2 separate regions of the Homo sapiens genome follow, and region 2 is linked to region 1. Evidence: fine-mapped expression QTL. Tissue or cell type: unexposed skin. Region 1 holds a variant in brackets; the other region holds the start of a gene. All regions are shown on one strand. Distances are from middle to middle.

Region 1 (7,990 bases):
GGTCCACTGTTCCTGCCAGTGCCCCTCACCAGCATGGGGGCTGCAGGAGGGAGAGGCTGCTCTCTACCTGTTCACTGCTGCTTCCCAGGGTCTACGGCAATGCTGGTCACGTAGCAGGTGCCCAGTAAGCATGTGCTCAACACAGGAATGGGTGAATTATGCTGTGAGAATCACCTCTTGTGTTGAGGGAGTCAGGGAAGGGGGAAGGAGGGCGGCAGATGAGGCATGGGGAGGGGGCGTGGCTATAGCTGGGGAGCAGGGGAGGCAGATGTCTGGTTAGCTTTCAGATTGCAGCCCAGAATTAGGGTCTTCACTCACCTTTCCCCTCCAGATGTTGGGAGTAGGGATGACTCACCCCACAAGTGTCTTTACCACCTGTCCAGAGCCCAGCACACAACATGAACTCTGTCACCTTCTCAGAGTAAGCTCTAGCACACATGTCATTGGACAGGAGATGGAGGCTCACACACTGAAGACTCCTGGGGCGCAAGACTATGGGTCAGAGAAAAACTGGGCTGTGGCCGGACCCCACCTGGTTCTTTGGCCCCACTTCCCTCAGACCCAGGCATCTGGGCTCCCAGCTACACCATCTGGCCCAGGCGTACACTCCTCTGGTTCGATGCTGCCCCAGCCTGAGGCGTAGCAGGTGGTCCCCAGTGCTGGCTCCTGGGTGGGCAGGCCCAGGACCTTCACAACATCTGTGATCTTGGCAGGCTCTGACAGGCGGAGCAGCATGAGGTCATGGCTGGAGTCTTCATCTGGTCTAAGGCTTTGATGCTTCAGAAGGCTCATATTGTAGAGCGGGTGTGGGAAGCTGTGGCTGACAGGGACCCTCTGGCCTGTGTCTTCAGGCTCAAACAGGTTGTGCCGACCCAGCCAGACCTGGCTATTCCTGGGGAGGAAGGGGGTGGATGCATGAGGAGAGAGAAAATGGGGAAAGGTAGATGGGGCAGGGGAGGATAAGGGAGACTCCAAAGGGAAGAAAAAGAAACAGTGAGAAAAGCACAGGGGTCGGGGAGATATAGTCGTGGTGAAATACAGACAGTGAGTTAGAAAACAGGAGTGTGATCATGTGAGAGGCAGAGACAGAAACTGAAAGAAACGAAGTGGAAAAGAGAGAGCATAAAATGGCAGAGGAATGACAAAAACAGAAGGGAGAACAGTGAGAATTAGGATGAGCAAAGAAGAGACAGAGACAGCAAGAAATAGACATGGGGAAGAGGAAGGGAGAAAGAACAGAACCAGGAAGGGAGTGAGAAATAGACAAATGAGAAAAGGATGCGGGAAGTCAGAGAGAGAAGGAGAAACAGCAGAGAGGAAGCCAGGGGTGATACAGTGTGGGAGAGAAAAAGGAGGGAGGCCACGGGGGCATCTGAGGAGTGTGGAGTAGCAGGGGGAGGAGGAGAGGCATGAGGGTGGCTCACCTGCAGCTGGGGCTGGAGTGAGGGCTCTGTAGTGGCGGGTGGCCCGGCCCACAGCTCAGGGCCACGTCCCCCTTTCTCTCTCCAGCTCCCTTCCCCTCCTTTCGATTTTTTTTGTTGTTTGTTTGTTTGTTTGTTTTTTCTGAGATGGAGTCTTGCTCTGTCACCCAGGCTGGAGTGCAGTGGCACGATCTCGGCTCACTGCAACCTCTCCCTCCCGGGTTCAAGCGATTCTCCTGCCTCAGCCTCCCTAGTAATTGGGATTACAGGCGCGCAGCACCACGCCTGGCTACTTTTTGTATTTTTAGTAGAGACGGGGTTTTGCCATGTTGGCCAGGCTGGTTTCAAACTCCTGACCTCAGATGATCCACCCACCTCGGCCTCCCAAAGTGCTGGGATTACAGGCGTGGGCCACCGTGCCCGGCCACCTTCCCCTCCTTTCTTGTTTCCCCTTCTCCTTCCTCCCTCCTCAATTGTGCACCCAGCTACAGCTGAAACCAGCCCTCCCTGTGTCTCCCCAGGGTGGAGGGATGTCCTGCAGAGAGTGCTGTGCAATGACAGGCACCCCCTCACATGCACACACATTGAGCTTAAAGTCCTTCCTTTTTCTGGGTGCTCCCCACCCACCCTCACGGGGTGTGTTCAGTAGTGATGAGGAAGGGCTGAGGCAGAGACCCAGAGAGAAAGACAGGCAAAGAGATGCAGGGTGAGACACACGGTGACAGAGATGGCCACAGAGAGACCCAGAGACAGAGACGGGGGAGACACAGACACAGGGAGACAGAAAAGAGAGAGGGACATAGAGACCAAAACACAGTCATACAGACACAACCAGAGCCAGATACCAAGAGACACAGCGAGATCAGACACAGAGAGAAACCCAGGCAGCCATGGGGAGAGTGGTCCAGCCCCAGCTCTGCCTCCGGGTGCGACCTGGGCCAGGACCTTCCCTCTCTCCTTTAGTCTGAAGCCTCACCTGAGAAGTGACCCTGGGGGAAGCATCCCGCTGTTATTCCTGTGGGACACAGCCATTCCCTCCCCAGATCCCAGGGTCCTACTTACTTCTTTAGGCAATGGGCAGCTGTGAGCACCCACTGGGGGTGCACCAGGACACCCCCACAGTGTGCCCATCCATGACTGTACACAGCCACCTGCCAGGGTTGGGAATGCTTCTCACACTCCCAGCCTCCCACAATCCGAGACTGGATGAGGGGCACGGCACCTGCGGAGGGGGTGCTGGGTCAGGGGGATCAGACCCAAAAGAATTGGATAGGGGAGGGAGCTGAGCTGTGGGTTTGAAGAGACATGGGGGCAGAGGACCAGGACTGGGAGTCCAGGACACAAGCAAGGGGTCCTGGGAGGGCTGGCAATTCTGTAGCTATTCCCTGCGTTAGCGGGTTGGTGGCTGGACCAGGTCGGGAGGCTTCATGCTCTGAGAACGGAGCTGACCCCAGAGATCAGAGTAGGGGACATGGGAAACATCTGAAGCAGGCATCGGGTTGGGGGTTGGGTCATTTGGAGTGATTTGGGGTCTTACACTGGGAGAAGGGACACTGTGGTGGCAGCTGTGGGTTCTAAGAGAATAAGAGGTTCCAGAAACCAAGGATAAGTGCCCAGTGGAGAGGTTTAGTTGCTGGGAGAGGAAGGTTTTGGATGGTTTACCATGTCCAAGGTTAAGCAAACAGTTCTGCCTGAGTTGTTTCTTGCTTTGTTTTGTTTTGTTTTGTTTTTGAGGTTTTGAAAAGGGTGCGGATTTAGGGAATCAGAGAACTGGCCGTTGTGGTTGGGGGTGCTCGTGTTTTTCCCATGGAAAAAGCTAGCCATTGAATGACGGGTCTGGGGCAAAGAGTCAGGGAAGGAGGAGTTCTGAAAGTCCCAGTGCCAGACTCAGGGTGGGAGGCAGCATTTGTTGTCTCAGGCCAGATAGCCTCGGGGGGAAGAAGGAAGTGTCTGGTGGAATCTGGGTTTCCTGGGACAGGGTTGGGGAGCCAGGTGTCAAGGTCCAGGGGACAGGGTTGAATGCTCACAGCTGAATAGGAAAAGTCAGTAGACTGTGGTAGGACTGAGGGGCTCAGGAGGCAGCCCAGTGATAGGGTCCAAGGAACCAGTGGCATGGAGAGAGGTCCTTGAAAGGTTTTGAACCCCATAAAGAGAAACACAGAGATGCCCAGGAACTTGCTCTTTAGTAAAGCAGCTGGGAGCAGGGATTTGGCTGGGCAATGGAGAGAAAGGTCTGAGGTAAGTGGGAGGGAGCGGGGACCTAGTGTGGGCATGAGGACTATTGCAATGTGGAAGAGTCAGGGGCACATTGTCTGGGCTGAACTGTGGGCTGAAGGGACGAGGCTGGGGCACTGGGTGGGAGGAAAAGGGCTTCAGCATAAGAGTCAGAACCCGCCCCCCTTCCTTTATCCCCCCAATCTCACCAGTGCACCCCACAGACAAGGCGATGGAGAGAACCAGGTCCCACATGCTGACACAGGTGTCCACGGCCAGGTGGTGAGTTTGGGGCTGGGGGGCCTCCCTGAGGAGCCCTATAAAGCCTTCATTCTCCAGGACCCCGCCCTTGCCCTGTTGGCACCTAGATGCTGACCAAGGCCCTCCCCATGCTGCTGGAGGCTGGACAACCCCCTCCCACACCCAGAGCTGTGGAAGGGGAGGGAGAGCCAGCACTTGCTGTTCCACACATACTAGA[T/C]CAGTCTGGAGGCATTCCCACGGTGTGAGGTCAGATTGGGCAGGGCCTATGGATCATGGAGATGTGATCTAGGGAACAAAGCCAGAGAAGGCAGGCTCAGGATGAACAGCAACAGGGGTTGGGATGATCACTGATTCTTTTTTAAAAAAATTCTGAGACAGTCTCACTCTGTTTCCCAGGCTGGAGTGCAGCGGCGTGATCGCAGCTCCCTGTAGCCTTGAACTCCCAGACTCAACCGATTCTCCTGTCTCAGCCTCCAGGATAGCTGAGACCACAAGCATGCACCACCACATCCAGCTAATTTTTAATTTTTTTGTAGAGAGAGGGTCTGGCTATGTTGCCTAGGCTGGTCTCCAACTCCTGGGCTCAAGCCATCCTCCCACTTCGGTCTCCCAAAGTGATGAGATTACAGGCGTGAGCCACCACGGCCAGCCCCAATCATTGATTTTCAATACAAAGTCTCATGTGCCTAAGTCCCAAGTACTTCCTTTGCACCCCAAACCTAATATGCCCTGAAATATCAGAATGATCGGATTGTGAGACTTCCTGGTCCCTATACCCGTCTGAGCCCAGAAGCTGGACCTCCAACTTACCATGTTCCTGAAATAGAAGCGTTGGCATTCAGTACTCTCTGATTCTTGCACTTCCACACTCAGAAAATGGTTCCCCACATACATTTCTCCCTCATCATAAAACCTTGTGATACCACATATTGTCCAATCCAGAAATATGACTCTCCCAGACCAAGTTCCCTATTATTTCAAAATCCAATGTCCACTAAACAATATGGGGTTCCGGTGGCTCCTCACTCCTCATTCTCCATGCCTGTACAACGTACAGGTACAGCGGGGATTCCTGTTGACCTGCCCTCCTAGGTCAGAATTGTCCTCATGCAAAATCCAATGCCTCCTTCTCACTGAAATGTCTAGCTATCAGGAGCCAGGTTTATACACTCCAAGATTAAGCTGCAAGCCAGGCACGGTGAGTGGCTCATGCCAGCAATCCCAGTGCTTTGGGAGTCCAAGGCTGAAGAATCACTTGAAGTCAGAAGTTCAAGATCAGCCAGGGCAACAAAGTGAGACCCTTTCTCTACAAAAAAAAAAAAAAAATTTAATTAGCCAGGTGTGGTGGCAAGCACCTGTAGCCCCATCTACTCAGGAGGCTGAAGCAGGAGGATCCCTTAAGTCCAGGAGGTCAAGGGTTCAGTGAGCTATGATCACACCACTGCGCTCCAGCCTGAGTGACAGAGCAAAAGACCCAGACTGTGTCTCAAAAAAAAAAAAAAAAAAAAAAAGAATTAGGGTGGCATTGAGAAATCTCATTTTGGTGTCTCAGAAAAGAATCAAGAATAAGAGTCCTGGTGTTAACTCTTATTATAAGAGTCCACTGTTAACTCTATAAGATTTCTTTGATTTTGAAAAAAAAAATGTGATTTCATCTGTTCAATAAAACCAGAGCAGCTTACGCTGATCCAGACCCAGCTGTGTCTCAAGAATTTGACAAAATCTTCCCCCATTTCCAGCTGAATGACCAGATCAATTCCAAGTACAGTGAAGGAGACAGAAGTGGACATAGATAATCACAATTCAAGACCAGGATAGAGGGATATTCACAGCCAGTGGCCTGATTTCCCCCACACAACCACTCGTTCCCTGGAATGACCGTCTGAAAGGAAATTTGCCTCAGCTTGAATGAGAACCACCTGAATCCAGTGTCCCAAGCATATCCTCATCCCCATGATAACCTCAACCAAAACCTGACCCAAACCAATTTAACACAGCCCAATCCAACCACATCACCCACAAGCCCAACCCATCAACCCAACACAACTTAATCTAATTCAAGACAACCCTAATAGCCTCCTTCATTTAAAGATCAAACCAAACTAATGCACATCCTCGCATGCAATAGCCAGCTCCATGTATTCTATCTCCAAAACTAAACCTACTTCATCCCCAATTCAATCCCCACACCCTTCCCAGCCAACATAAAAACAAACCTATTTCCATCCCAAAGCCATGCCATCCCAAACCACCTTTAAATTGCCAATCCCCAAACTCATCCGAAGCAGAATTTTACCCCATCTGTAACTCAACTCCAACCTGACCCTCCATTCTAACTGGTCTTCATACTCCGTTTTCAATGCTATATCCAGCACTTTATCTGGCCAAAGGAGATCAAACACAACCACATCCCACTTCTCGAGCCAGTCCACAGCCTCCTCCCCACCCGTCATGGCCCCCTCTGGGCTCTGACCACACAGGAGTCCGTGCCTTCACCCGCTCTTCCTGCACACACCATGGTGTTCATCAGGGCCCTGGGTAGTCCCTGTTACAAGATGTGGTACAGATGAAGCTGATGCTGGCACAGTGCCTCGTATCTGGGAGACTCACTTGGGAGGACAGTGGAGTGGGGCAAACCCGTAAGTTCAGGCTCCTGTGCCCTCCACCCAGAAGTCCTTGAGATTTCATGGACAGCGACATATGGCCATTCTCTAGCACCTTTCAGTCCTGGTTTCCTGTGGTTCTAGGATCTTTATCGGACACCAGGCCCCGGCCTGGCACCACGCAGGCCACATCCACCAGGGGACGCACGTCCACAGCTCCATGGTTGGGACGTGACGGGAGAGGCGCGCTGCAGGGATAGTCGCAGCTACATGACGTCATGGCGCCGGCCTCGCCCGCATAGTGCAGATGCTGAATGATGAGTGGATGATGCCCCAGGCCTCGGGACATGGCACATGTGCAGATTATACTCGCGCAGGCGCACTCTTGTGGAACTAGAAGAGTAGGTGATTACCCTCAAGTGGAGTAAGGAGTAGATGGAAAGATCAAAGCATGGGCAACTCTCAGTCCTCTGACCCTTTGAGAATCAGGAGATTCCATTACCTTCACACCAAACCCTGGAGCCAATGGTTCCAGTCCTTGCTTCCCAGGGACCCACCAAGGAGTCTCAAGCTAACAAACCCCTGCAACTCAACCCCTCACAATTTCAGCCCCTTCTTCCCGAGGATACGGGATTCTTAGACCTCTCAGGCCATTCCCACGTCAGTACCTCGGAAGCTGGGACCTTACCAGTCTCCTCCCTTGGGGATTTAAGAGTTCAGAACCCACATTCCTCCTCTCCAAGGACATTCACCTCCAGCCTCTTCCTCCTTCGGAACCAAGGAGTATGGGCCCCCTCTGCACTCAAGCCCAGAAGTTCTGATCCCCACCCATGTCCCCTCGAAATTCTGAGCACTCCCTTATTCTGGGGTTGGCAGTGGGGCACTGCCAAACATGGTGGGGAACTGGACCTAGAAATCTTGGTTAGGCACAGTGAAGCCAGATGTGGTAGACACACTAATGATGGGATGTTAAGACTGTCCTGCAGACAAGAGTGGAAGGCTCTGGGTGAACAGTGTTGGGAGACAATTTTCCATGGTTCTCTTATGTTTCTGTGTGTCTTCTGAGCAAAGGCAATAATACCGTTTTCTTTTCTGGACCATCTTTTCAAGCATATTTGTACAGCAGATAGCCTTGCAAGATGGTATCGCCTTCAGATCTAGGTTTGCTTACTGCCTTAGATAATAAAGTTAACGTCTATTTTACAGCAGATTTGTTTACTGTTCAGGACAATAAATACAATATGTTCCTCCAGAGTAGGTCTGCTTTCAACCCAATTATAAAGATAATATCTCCGTCAGATACAAAGACTGGACAAGTTTGCTGGTACCTTCTTATAAGATTGAGGATTTCTAAGCCTAGGTTGCTCACCTTTGCCACAAACCCCTGTGTCCATCCACCTGAACTGCTCTGATCATCCCATATGAATTGGGGGGCAAAGTGAACAAATGTGAACACAAAGTTCATGCTGCCTCCTTAGCTGTGGGTAATAA
Region 2 (5,146 bases), 49 kb after region 1:
AGAATCCTGTGAGGTCAGAGCCTAGAGGGGCCATCAGGCGGAAGAAGAGGGATGGGGACAGGTGTGGGAGTCCGGATGGGGTTGGATTTTCTTTGCTTTGGGCCAGAGAAGATGCTAGGGTTAGGCTTGGAGATGGAGTAGGAAGAGAAGTTAGAATAGGGGTGAGGTTGGAGTTGGGGTTATAGGTGGGGATTGCGTTGTTTGAGGTGGATAATGTGATAGTTAGTTTGAGATGGCATGGGTTGGGGTTGAGAATGGGAATGGTTTGGTTTGATTCTGGGTGGGAAATACGTCAGGGTTGAATTGGGATGAGGTAGATTTTGTTTGGAATGCAGAAGACATGAAGATTGAGATTGGATTTTGAGATGGGCATGGGTTTGATTTGATTTTGAATGGTGAGGATGTGGGCTGAGTTGGATTTAACTTAGTACAGTTGCACTGGAGTTGCATGGGGGTGAGATTGGATATAGGTTGGGTGAGTTGTATTGAGCTGTGTTGAATTGGGGTTGGGGTTGGGGTTGGGTTGGCTCTGTTTGGGATAAACTGGGCTGTATTGAGTTGAGTTGGGTTGGGGTTCCCTGGGATGGGGATGGATTGGGTTTGGGGTGAGATTGCAAATGGTGATTAGGATGAGGATGAATCCAGGAGGTTTCACTCAACCTGAGACCCCCTCTTTTCCCCACAGGGTGACTCTGGGGGACCCCTGGTCTGTGGGGGCATCCTGCAGGGCATTGTGTCCTGGGGTGACGTCCCTTGTGACAACACCACCAAGCCTGGTGTCTATACCAAAGTCTGCCACTACTTGGAGTGGATCAGGGAAACCATGAAGAGGAACTGACTATTCTAGCCTATCTCCTGTGCCCCTGACTGAGCAGAAGCCCCCACAGCTGGCCAGCAGCCCCGCCTGACATGGAACAGAACGGAGCCATCCCCCAAGACCCTGTCCAAGGCCCAGATGTTAGCCAAGGACTTGTCCCACCTGAGGACAAAGCTGGCGCTCAAGGTCACCTGTTTAATGCCAAGATAACAAAGCGCTGATCCAAGTTGCTCTGTAGGAATTTCTGTGACTTTTTTCTGGGGTCAAAGAGAAACCCCGAGACACTGTACACTGTTCCTTTTCACCCACCACCCCGATCCCTAGGTGAGGAGAAGCGGCTTGAAGCAGGGCTCCATTCATTCAACACACATGACCACCCGTGTGATCTTGAACAAGAGGCCCAATCTCACTTCGCCTTGGTTTCCTTATCTGTAAAATGAGACCATCTTATTGCTGACTTCAAAGGGCTGTTGTGAGGATTAAATGAGATGATTCGTCTGAACTGATTAAAATCGTGTCTGGCACTGAGTAAATACCCTCTATCTCTGGATCCCAGTTAAAGGACCTAACAGACACTAGATTACCAAGAATGGCTTTTTCTTTAAGGTTTAGTTCTGGGCCGGGCATGGTGGCTCACACCTGTAATCCCAGCACTTTGGGAGGCCAAGGCGGGCGGCTCACTTGAGGTCAGGAGTGCAAGACCAGCCTGGCCAACATGGTGAAACCCCATCTCTACTAAAAATACTAAAAAAATTTAGCCGGGCGTGGTGGCACACGACTGTAATCCTAGCTACTTGGGAGGGTGATGTGGGAGGATCGCTTGAACTTAGGAGGCAGGAGTTGCAGTGAGCCGAGATCGCGCCACTGCACTCCAGCCTGGTGACAGAGCAAGACTCCATCTCAGAAAAAAAAAAAAAAAAAAAAAGATTTAGTTCTGGGCTTCCTGGTAGCCATGGCAAAAAGGCAAATACTGTCCTTTCCTTAGCCAGGTCCCTGATATACAGCAGAGGCTGGAACTCTGAGCTGCTTTGATTTTACCAAAAAGCCAAGACAACCTGTTGGAAGCCTATGGGTTTACCATTGAGGCTGCAGGAATCTAGTTCCTAATTATCTTCAGAGACCACAAAATGTGATGTTCAAGGTCGCTGAATGTTGAAGTACATGAACCTGGCTCGTGAGACCTAAATATTGTACTGGTGGTGGGGGGGAAGGGTCATTGGAATCTGTGGTTAGCCTGATCTTGACCTGGGAGGGAAGGTTGTCCAGATCTCTGGGACTTTGGAGGACAGGACGTTGAGCACCCATAACTGGGAGCAAGAAGTGGGAGGCTCATTGAGACCCCAGCATTGTTTGGGAGGGACACTGGATTTTGTAATGCTAAAGAACTTACCCTGGGAGACCCCTGAAACTTCACATTCCTGGATCTGGAGGCACTAGGAATGTGGTGATGTGTACCCCAAAATTTTATTATGAAAGGAACAGTAGCTTTGGGGACCTAGGTCCTGGGTCTGGGAGTGCAAGAACCAGGGCATTCTGAAGGCCAAGGCTTATATTTCAGGGGGAACTGGCAGCTGAGATGCTAGTATCTTGGCTCCGAGTGGTGCAGGGAATCAGAGCCCTAACTGCTGGTGTTTGAGGGCACCAGGTCTGGGGGTGCAGGGCCTTAATTGAGACTGAGGTATATGGGGCTTTGTACCAGGGGTCACTGATTCCTCCGTCTTCCTGTTTCTGCTTCCCCTCAGTCCCCCCTTGCCTCACTGGCTGCTCCCCAGAGCAAAGCCCCAGAGCCACAGGCCCTGCCCCACCTGGCTTCAACCCCAGGAATGCGTCCAGCGTGATCCAGGGCCTGCAGAACAGGTGCTGGTTCTCCCTCCCCGTCTACAGCTCTGGGGATCGGAGGGGGGGGGGGCAATTGTCCAGCCCCCAGGCAACAGGGGAAGGGCCTTGGCCAACATCTGGGTGCCAGCAGGGCAGGGGTGGGGCTCTGAGGGGATAAGGGCTTTTAAAAGCCTCCCCAGGGAGGTTCCCCAGTTCCTCCACCTGCTGGCCCCTGGACACCTCTGTCACCATGTGGTTCCTGGTTCTGTGCCTCGCCCTGTCCCTGGGGGGGACTGGTGAGACAGTGGGGGGATGTGGGAGGGGGAACGGGCCCTGATTCTCTTGCTGGCCTCACATCCCCCCCCGATAAGACCTTCCCCTCCAACACCCCACCCTCATCCCTCTGGCCCACAGTCTATCCTAGTCCGGGGTGCCCCGGCTCTTATCTATCTTGCGCGGCCCCACCCTAAACTTCCACCCCCGCTCCTCCATGTTGTCATAGTGCTCACTCCCACACCAGATTCCTGCTCCTCCCAGGAAGCCTCAGTACTTTCTCCTCTTCCCTAGCCAACGCCCTGTCCCACCGCTTTACCAAAGGGGCAGATTCTGGGCCATCTCTGTCTCTCTCTGGAGGACCCCAACCCTCCCATGGGCTTCCCCCACCCCACAGGACTCTGATCATCCCCTCCTGCCCCCTAGTTCCCTGCGGCCACCTATTTGGCTCCTGAGTCTACAAATCCCACCACACTCCAGTGACTTTTTCCATCCAGCTGTCCGCTCTCAACTGTGTCCTCCAGACCCTGACATCTGGTCTCCCCAGTCCTTCCAGGGTCCCCCAAATTTCACCAGAAAACCCTGCTTCCCAAACTGGCATGTGGGATCCCCCATCTGGTATGGGGGGGGGTCTGCAAATGTCCCTTCCCACCCAGCACCCCCAGCTCTCCCAGGAAAAACACCACACCCTCCCACCACATGCTCCTTTCCTTGGGGAAGTTCCATCCCGCCCCAGGCCCCAGCCCTTCTCTGCCTGAATTGTTCCTACACAGCTCTGGTTTTCTGGAACCCCACCCCAAGGATCCTGAATGCCTTCTCAGCCAGCGCTTCTGCCCTGGCCTCCCCCAAGTCAGTATGTGATTCTACAACCTCACGTCAAGTGGGTCCTGCATTGCATTCCCACAGCTGCTTGGCGCCTGTTCTCACCACTTCTCCAATCCTCTTCCTAGGATTGCCTCCAAGAGGACCCCATATCCTTCCAGTACCCTCAGACCATGAACCCCATCCCCATGAGAAACGAAGATCCCATCCTTCACCCTGTCCGAGAAGGACTGCCACTCACGCCTCCCTCCTCCTGAGCCCCGTCCCAGTCCTGACCGCAACTGTGTTCTCAGGGCCCCAACCTCCCCTCAGATTGCCATTCCTGGTTCACAGGAAGGACCCCAAAACCTCTCGGAAGCCCACCTCTAGCCTTAACCATAGCCCTTTCTTTTACCCTTTAACCAGGAAGCCCTGAAATCTAACTGTCCCAGCCAAGCTGGCCCCTTCCAACCCCAATGTAGGGACCCCAAGTCACCCCCAAACTCTTCAGTCCAGATGCTCTTCTTTACCTCTCAGACCTGGTTCCCTAAAGCTGCATCCTTTCCTGAACCTCAAAAGCCCAACCCAGGTCCTGTTTCCCTAGCCTAGGAGCCCCTTAGCCCTCCAGATTCTTCCTCAGTGAGCCTCTGATCCTGTCCCACCCTTGGCGCCTTGATCCCTGGTTTCCAGAATCCCTTTCCACTCCCCTAACCCACCACCTCCCATCCCCCAGCCCCAGACCCCAAATGACCTGACGCCCAGATGCAGTGTCTGCTCCAGACACTGTCTCCTGTCTCCTACCCTGATCCCTGGAGGCTGCTCTACTGTCAGAGCACAAAATCTCCCCACCAGGTCCAGCCACCACTCCAAAAGCCCAGGGAACAGTCCAGAGTCCCACCCCTTCCCAACACCCCTTGCCCATGTCCCCAACCTCCAGCCCTGGTCCTCTACCCGCAATGTCCCTTCAGACCCACAGCCCAGCTCCCTCTCCTAGCCTTGTCCCTGGCCTCTCCTGCCAACCCTGCCCTTCCTGACCCAGCACCGCCTCTGCAGGTGCTGCGCCCCCGATTCAGTCCCGGATTGTGGGAGGCTGGGAGTGTGAGCAGCATTCCCAGCCCTGGCAGGCGGCTCTGTACCATTTCAGCACTTTCCAGTGTGGGGGCATCCTGGTGCACCGCCAGTGGGTGCTCACAGCTGCTCATTGCATCAGCGAGTGAGTAGGGGCCTGGGGTCTGGGAGGAGGGCATCTATGCTGCCACAGGATTGACAGGCCAGTGGCATTCCCCTTGGATAACCTCAGGCAAGACTGGGGGGCTGAGGCAGAGAGGAAGGCTCTGGCGCAGGTCGCCTGGCAGGGCAGAGCTGGGCTGGACACCCCTCTCCAAGGCTGCCTGGGTCTCTTGGGATCTGGTTCTGCTTGTGTCTCTGTGTGACTGT

Evidence for each region. PIP is the estimated chance that this variant, and not a neighbour inherited with it, causes the effect.
Region 2: it holds the start of KLK1, and the variant in region 1 is the best candidate, but not a certain one, in a credible set for the expression of KLK1 in unexposed skin (GTEx, PIP 0.62).

What each region holds. Positions count from the first base shown.
Region 1 is chr19:50,869,374-50,877,363 of GRCh38, reverse strand. It overlaps KLK2 (kallikrein related peptidase 2), which reads right to left and starts at 3,925. Exons shown (of 5, transcript NM_005551.5): 1 at 3,845-3,925; 2 at 2,484-2,643; 3 at 606-892; 4 at 356-492. The coding sequence starts at 3,890. RefSeq lists cis regulatory regions at 4,087-4,101, 7,729-7,751, enhancers at 4,087-4,101, 6,577-6,871, 7,729-7,751, 7,512-7,990, 7,480-7,990 and 2 more and promoters at 3,900-4,253, 3,900-4,525, 3,900-7,990. The variant T/C (reference allele first, on the strand shown) is at 4,114.
Region 2 is chr19:50,821,488-50,826,633 of GRCh38, reverse strand. KLK1 (kallikrein 1) reads left to right here and starts at 2,847. Exons shown (of 5, transcript NM_002257.4): 1 at 2,847-2,931; 2 at 4,763-4,922. The coding sequence starts at 2,886. It overlaps KLK15 (kallikrein related peptidase 15), which reads left to right. Exons shown (of 6, transcript NM_017509.4): 5 at 1-13; 6 at 686-1,345. The coding sequence ends at 838.